2 linked regions of the Homo sapiens genome follow. The protein of the gene in region 1 interacts with the protein of each later gene in a pairwise test. Each region holds a gene or a part of one and is shown on either strand. Other genes may lie near its edges.

Region 1 (4,121 bases):
TCTTCATTTCCTCATCAAGCTTAAGATGGAGCAGCTTTGTACAACAAAGAGAGACTAAACTTGGGGATCAAAAGACCTAAGTTTGGAGTCAAACTCTATATCTTGCTAAGTGTACAATCTTGAATGAATTGCTTACCCTTTGCCATCACCTATAAAGAGGAGATATTAATAACCACTCTTGAGGTTATTGAGACCTTTAAATGATGACGGTCACTTAAGCAGGTGCAAATTTCCTGGCAAAAATGTCTGAAGTATCACAGGTGGTGAATGCTGGCTGCTGTAACTCTTCACTCACCTTTGTGCCTGTTTCCTCTCCTAACTGCCATGTTCTCACTGGGCTGCTGAACCATATCCTTCAAGACCCTGTTTCACACCACCTCTTTCACAAAACCACATTCATTTTTCTTCCTTTTCTCAACTTCTACTCTTCCTGTGGCTGGCCCAGTGGAGCACATTTTGTTGGTTTTTGCACTCCATTAAAAGACACCTGATTCTTATTTGCTAAACTCTTAGAAATATGCTGTGCCAACATGCTGAGGTAAAACTGAGCATAGAGCAGTTAGTAGAGAGAAGGGGTAGGATCTCTTGAACCCCAAACCTTGACCTTTCCAGGGCAAGGAGTCTAATCCAGGCATTTCCTGGGAAGGCAGAAAGGACCTGCCAATCAAAAAAGACATTACCAACACATTTTGAGGCCCTGCTTTTTGAACAGGTTTGCTCTAGGCCATAGGACAGAGCAGAAAGAGGTAGGCTTCTTCTTGGGCAGGATTGTGTCTCATGCTTCTGTATTATCCCACAGCTCATCCACGGGCCTAATAATAGGTTGGTCGTGGTGGAAATGTCACCACTGCTTCTAAGTTCATTGAAATATATAAAGCCTGCATAAAAAGAAACTTTACATCTTCAGAACGATTATTGGTTATGCATCCATTCAAAGGTATTATCTTATTTGATCTTCACTGCTCTGAAGATAAGTAGGGCAGGTATCATCATCCTCATTTTAGCTGGAAGAAAACTGAGGTGAGGGGTGTTGCAGTGACTTGCCCAAGGTCACCCTGTGAGTTACTGGTCTTGTGATTCCTTGATTAGCCCTTTCTCTTTCCTGCACCTGAGTGGAGTATAGAAAACTGAAATTTCTATTTTTACCAGGAGTTTTCATTTGGTGATCATCATGAACCAAAATAGCACTAGAAGGTTCTTTATTGAGTAATAACAAAAGCTACACTTAGATAGAGTTTGAATTAACCTCCTTTAATTGTCAGGACACCTTCACATTTTTTTTGAAAGCAAGCTTTTCTTTACATGAGGGTTTCACATTTGGATAAGTATGTGGGGTTACAGTACTTTGTCTTTTCTTTCTTTGTGGGCTAGATTTAAAACCCTCTTCTTAAGAAACATCTTGACCTTCAAATTGCCCTTTTCAAATGAAAAGGCTCATTGTCTGTCTCATACAGTATTGACAAAGTTGTCCTCTCTGAAAAGTAAATTCAGCTTATTTAAATTAGTTAAGGTCTGATTTCTGTGTGAATGCAAACACTTGGTGATAATGATGATGATGATGATGGTGATTAAGAAGATGATGATGGTGATGATAATTACTACCATTTGTGGAGCACTGTCAGGGGCGAGACTGAAGCTTGAAGAGATTAAAAAACGTGCTCAGGGTCAAACAGCTGTGGACGATCATGACTGATCCTCAGACCTATTTGTTAAACAGAAAAATGAGATCCACAGTTCAAACTCACCCCTACCAAATTTCAAAGCTGGAGCACTTAGCCATTAGGCCATCTTCCCATATTTTCATGAAAACATTATCAGAGCATGCAGCCAACTGTAATAAAATTGGTGTTGATAAAAATTTGCCTGGCACAGGTGCAGAATCATGGTTAAGATTCATTCTTGATGGATCAGAAATCACATGGTGTCTCACTGACAGCTGGCCTCACTCTGTGATGACACCTCGGTGAGCTTGCTTGAGGGTTCGGTGTGCTGATGTACTTCATAGGGGCTACTGGTAAGACCTCCCTGGGAACTTTTACTACAGCTCTGTGGAAGGCAGAAGAGATGAAAGGGTGAAGGCCTGATGATTTTGGAAATATTTCTGATACTTGTGTTCCTTAGTGAGATATCCACCCTGGAATTCCCCAGACCATCTCTCCACAGCCATAGTTATTTTCTAGTCAGGAAGATGGGATGGTAGATATTCACAGTAATGAGACTACTAGAACAAATGAAAAACAAGACGCCAACAGCTGCACTGGAAAGAGGATCGTTAGCACTAAGATTAGAGGTCCCAACAGCAGCGGGGCGCTTCAGTACAGGAAGAGCAACAAGTGGGTTAGCACACCTTCGGAAAGATGGTGCATCACAATTAGGACTTAGTCTCCAAAAACATTCTCTGTATTTTATAAAGTCCAGATTTCACCCTTTACCCATAACAACAGAGGAAAACGACAAGCTTTTGAACATATCATGACAATTAACAAATGAAAAAAATATGTAAGTCTCCTCTTACCTGCCCTGTGGTTTCAGCTGGGGAGCAGAAATTTTGTACAACCAATCCAAGACAAAAAATTACTAAATGTTGTAGCATCATGAGGAAATATTTGCTCCTTCTCTGTGCCAAGCACCTGTCAGGCTGACTTAGCTATTTTAACTTAGTTTGATAAACTCCCAGTGAATTCTTTCTCATTTCACTGTTTACTTTTAAATCCCTTCCTTTCCTTTTTCCTAGATCGAACCAGGAGATAGGTGAGACCTGCCTTCAGAAAGGAAAAATGGCAAATCCAGGAGTCTTGGTGAAATTGGCCACTGTAAATGGTCTATATATCCTGCTGAATGACAGGATATCCTGCAGGGGCTGAGGCAGAGGCTTGGCCCGGGATTTTTGTGCCTGCGAAGCTCTCAGAACGGTCCTGCCTCTCCTCTACTCTGCCCCCTCCTCTAGTCCTGCCTACTGCTGCCCTGCGGCCCTGTCAATGTTTCCACAACCACGCCATGGAACACTGCAGGCCTTTTGGTGCCAATGCAAAGGTCCAAGCTTGCTGTCGAGCGGGGTTGGGGGAGTGCCCATAAGTGAGCACGGTCCCAGGTATGGAATGAATGTTGCAGAAACCTTGCAGGAGGTGGTGGCTTCACCCTGGATAACCTCTACTGCAAAAAAAGTCTCCTTGCAGATGCTGACAGGTGGGTTTTTGACTCATTCTTTCTTCTTTTCCATGCCACTTCAGTAACAAGTGACTGAGCCTGTAGGTTCAATCTTACCCTTTAAGTTCCAGATCTAAAGCCACCCCTTCCAGGAAGCCTTCCTGTGCTGCCCCTCCACAGGACCCTGAAGATGCTCCCACAATTTTGCACATAAAGCCATGAAAGCCGAGGTCACATCTATCTGTCTGTCTCCCATGCCCAGCTATGAATGCCTTGAGGACAGAAGAATATAGCCTCATCTTCTCTGTACCCCTTGATTCCTAGAGCAGAGACCTGCACTTCAAAATAATGAAAACAGTTAAGGATAGTAGCCATCACTTTTTGAAAACTTACTACATGCTAGTCACTATTCTAGGCCTCTCCATGGATTTAGTTGTTTAATTCTCACAGTACTTGGTAAAACAGGATGATTCTTCTCATTTTACAGAGGAGGAAACTGAGGCAGAGAGGTTAAGGAATTTATCCAAGGCCACACAGCTAATAGGTGGTAAATCTAGTATTCAAACTATGTGGCTCCAGAGCCAGTACTGTCAACCACTGCCCTCTGCTGCTGAAACAATCAATATTTAATGAATAAATAAATAATAGATGGTATTCTCAATTCTATTGGAAACCATGATGGAAACGTGTCAGACCCAGCACCAGGAAGGATAAGGTTTGGACTTATTAACAAACCAGGGCATGTCTCATGACACTAAATTAAATGGGAGATTCATGCACTTACAGATACTAATTTTGGTTAAATGATCCTTTATTTCTCTACAAAGTTTCTCTCTCTCTCTCTCTCTCTCCCCCCGACTCCTTTCAACTTTTGAAACAACATTTATAATGACCGATAATCTAGGAAACTTTTCCAACATAGGCCCCTCAGAGGCCAGCCCAGAAACCTGGGTGGGGAGCTCAAAAAAAAAAAA
Region 2 (3,500 bases), on another chromosome or scaffold:
ATGGCACTGGCCTCCAGAACTTGCTGCTTACCTCTTAGGGCCCTGAAGCTTCTCAGGATTAGCAGAGGTTGACTCACATCTGTGTCATTTCTCCTAGTTTTTCAGTGTTGCTGAATTAACTTCAACATTCTTTTTTTTTTTCTTTTTTTTTTTTGCTTCCCTTCCCTTCTTTGTTTTCTTGAAGCACTACAGGTACTTTATTCAGGGAGTGTTTCTGTCTTGCCACTAGGAACATTATTTGAAAGAAAAAAACCTAGTTACTCAGAGAAAAGAAAGAGATGACCCTCAGGGCCATGCCTGCCTGGGTGTTCCTGGACCAGTGGTTGAGTGCCTCTCTCTGTTGCTCTAACCCCACTTTCATCTCAGTACGGATTTCCAGCAGGAAACTGACCTTAGGTTTCAGGGGCTCATTTCAAACAAGTCCCTGGCCGGCTGACAACCCCCTCCCGTCCCCACCAAGGGCTATCTCCTGCTCTTTTTATTATCTTATGGCCAAGAGCCTTCAGACAGAATCCTAGGATGTGGTCTTCCCACAAAACCAGGGGTCTCACTGAGGTGAGGCTTTTCCACGCTGCCTTTGCTAAGACAGAGAGAGGAACACCGTCTTATAAAGAGGATCCTGCAACACCGCTGGAATTATGTGTGCTATCACATTCATTTCTTTTTAAAAAAGCAATCGAATGTTCTTCTAGTGAATGCTCTGCACATCCTAAGAAAGCCCTTTGTTTTATTTAGTGGACTCATGTTGGCAGCACCCTTCCTCTACCCCCAACCCCCTACCACATTTCCTGTGGTCTGTGATGGGGTTGTTGGAATTTGGCTGGGTCTGCAGCTCTCTGTAGGTAACCAGGCACAGGTTTAGAGCTGACAGGACAATGAAATACAAACAGTGGGTTTGGTCTGTAGACTGCTGTTTATCCTATGGATTTACATTTTAACTCCATCATCCTTGAGTTGGGGGAGCTTTTTATAAAGGGGATTGAGGCAGAAGAGGGCAGGGTCTAATTAGCTCTAATTAGTATTCCCCGCCTGCTTGTTCTCCATGCTTATTTAGCTACTGAGGCAACGGGGAATTAAAATATCTAAGTAGTTTGGCAAAAGGCCTTTTGTGCCTGCGTGGCCTGGTAACTACTTTTTCTTATTCAGCCTGGCCATGGAAATATTCTGAGATGCTTTAACGATATCAGTAATGTGGGACAATTACAAACTACTTAAATAATAGGGCCCCTTTCACATGGCAGTGTGCAGCTGGGTTAATGGGATAGGGTCTCTTTTCACAGGTATTTCCAGTTGGCTGGAGCCGAGGGCCTTGGAGAACTGACTGCCGTGGTTTGTTTTCCTTCTTTCCGGTTCGAATGGGATTAATGGCCTCTATAAATGTAAAGGAATGCTTTATTTAGAGGCACCCATTTGTTTCTGAGGCTTCTTGCTTCCGTTGAATGCAGGGTTTACTTCCCGGGCCTCATGGTGAAAAGTTTGCTCTAAGACAGGCTTGACTCATCCCCTAAGGCTGATGCTTTGAAGGCACTGCGGGGTACCCTGCCCTCTCTTTATAGGATTCCCTCCCCAACTCCAGCCAGACATTTTCAGAGCTGGTTGTCTCTTGTAGAGCTGGGACCTACTTCTGCAACTTGTTCTCTTTAGTTATTCTCAACTGTCCCTCAGAGTGATCCTGAGATCCAACTCAAGTCAGATCATATCTCTCTGCTTAAAACCTTCGAATGGTTTCCCAGAGTCCTGCCAGGCTCCACGAACTCTCCACCTACTTCTCTGACTTTCCTTCACCACTTTCCCTTCGATCCTTTGCTCCAGCAGCATGGGCCTCCCACTGTCCCTTCAGCGTGCCAGCCATGCTCCCATGGCAGCCCTTCTCCCTGCCTGGAATACTGTCCTCCAAGATATCTGCATGACCGGCTTCCTCCACCCTGCAACCCTTTTTCTAGCATCTCCTGCTCAGCCAAGTTTTCCCTGGCCGCTCCCAGCTAAAGCTGCAACCTCCTCCCTATATCCCGAGTTCTTTTTATCTGCTTTTCTTCTTTAATTTTTGTCCTTAGCACTCACCACCATCTAATGTAACTACATATCTTCTTCACTATTTCCCCTAAGTAGAATTCTCCCCCAGCCAGGATGTGAGCTCCGTGAATAAGGGAGTCTTGTTGGTTTTATTCATCTCTGTATCCTCCATGCCTACAACAGCACCAGGCACATATTTGTTGAATGAATAATGGATGAACCTGAATCTTGGTAATTGGGAGGTGAAGAGGGCGATGCATCCCGTCCTCAACTCCCTGTTGCCTTCCACAGCTAGCTTTGAAGTCAGGGACTATGCATGCGGCTTGTTAGGAAGAAACATCCTGGGAGAAAGAGATTCTGTTGGAATGTGTCAGGATTTTTTTTTTAATTGGAGTCTCACTCTGTTGCCCAGGCTGGAGTGCAGTGGTGCAATCTCTGGTCACCGCAACCTCTGCCTCCCAGGTTCAAGCGATTCTCCTGCCTCAGCCTCCCGAGTAGCTGGGATTACAGGCGTACACCACCGCACCTGGCTTATTTTTTAATTTTTAGTAGAGATGGGGTTTCACCATGTTGGCCAGGCTGGTCTTGAACTCCTGACCTCAGGTGATCTGCCCACCTTGGCCTCCCAAAGTGCTGGGATTACAGGCATGAGCCACCACTCCTGGCTTTGTGTTAGGATTTTTTGAGCTGGTATGGAGGCCATTTGGTCTACTCCCTGAGTTGTTTGCATGAGGAAGCTGAGGCCTGGAAAGGTTAAGTGACTTGCCCTAGGTCACATAACCAATAAGTGACAGAACAAGTCCTCTGATCTTTTATACCCAGTATATCCTGTTCTCCTTCCCTACATCCCTGGGTGGAGCAGAACTATCTCCTCCTCCTCCTGCTTTCATGGCCCATTCCATTAGAGAGACTGGGGGCTGCAGCTGGTCTGTCTCACCTGCTACCTGGTTAATAGCCCTGGTCTTATTTACCTGTGTCCCTGACACAGCCACAATGCTTGGTACTCAGATGATCCCTTCTCTCACCCCAGGATTTTAATGGGCTTAGAAAAACTTTATTTAAAAGATTTGGCCAGGCAGGGTGGCTCACACCTATCATCCCAGCACTTTGGGAGGCCGAGGCAGGCAGATTACCTGAGGTCAGGAGTTCGAGACCACCCTGGCCAACATGGCAAAATCCAGTCTCTACTAAAAATACAAAAATTAGCCAGGCATGGTGGTGTGCACCTGTAATCCCAGCTACTCAGGAGGCTGAGGCAGGAGGATCGCTTGAACTTTGGAGGCCGAGGTTGCAGTGAGCTGAGATCACACCACCGTACTCTAGCCTGGGAGACAGAGACTCTGTCTCAAACAAACAAACAAACAAACAAACTTTTACATATGTACTTTTTCTTTTCTTTTTCCCTTTCTTTTTTATTTTATTTTGAGATGGAGTCTCACTCTGTTGCCCAGGCTGGAGTACAGTGGTGTGATCTTGACTCACTGCAA

Evidence for each region. The genes of interacting proteins can lie anywhere in the genome.
Region 2: the proteins of STAB2 (region 1) and ITGB5 come close enough for resonance energy transfer, tested with the Homo sapiens proteins (one study listed by BioGRID).

The regions. Positions count from the first base shown.
Region 1 is NC_000012.12:103,585,952-103,590,072, reverse strand, and holds the start of STAB2 (stabilin-2 precursor), read right to left. Parts: upstream 2,801-4,121; 5' UTR 2,597-2,800; coding exon 2,516-2,596; intron 1-2,515.
Region 2 is NC_000003.12:124,880,866-124,884,365, reverse strand, and holds part of ITGB5 (integrin beta-5 isoform a precursor), read left to right. Parts: intron 1-2,505; exon of another isoform or gene 2,506-2,523; intron 2,524-3,500.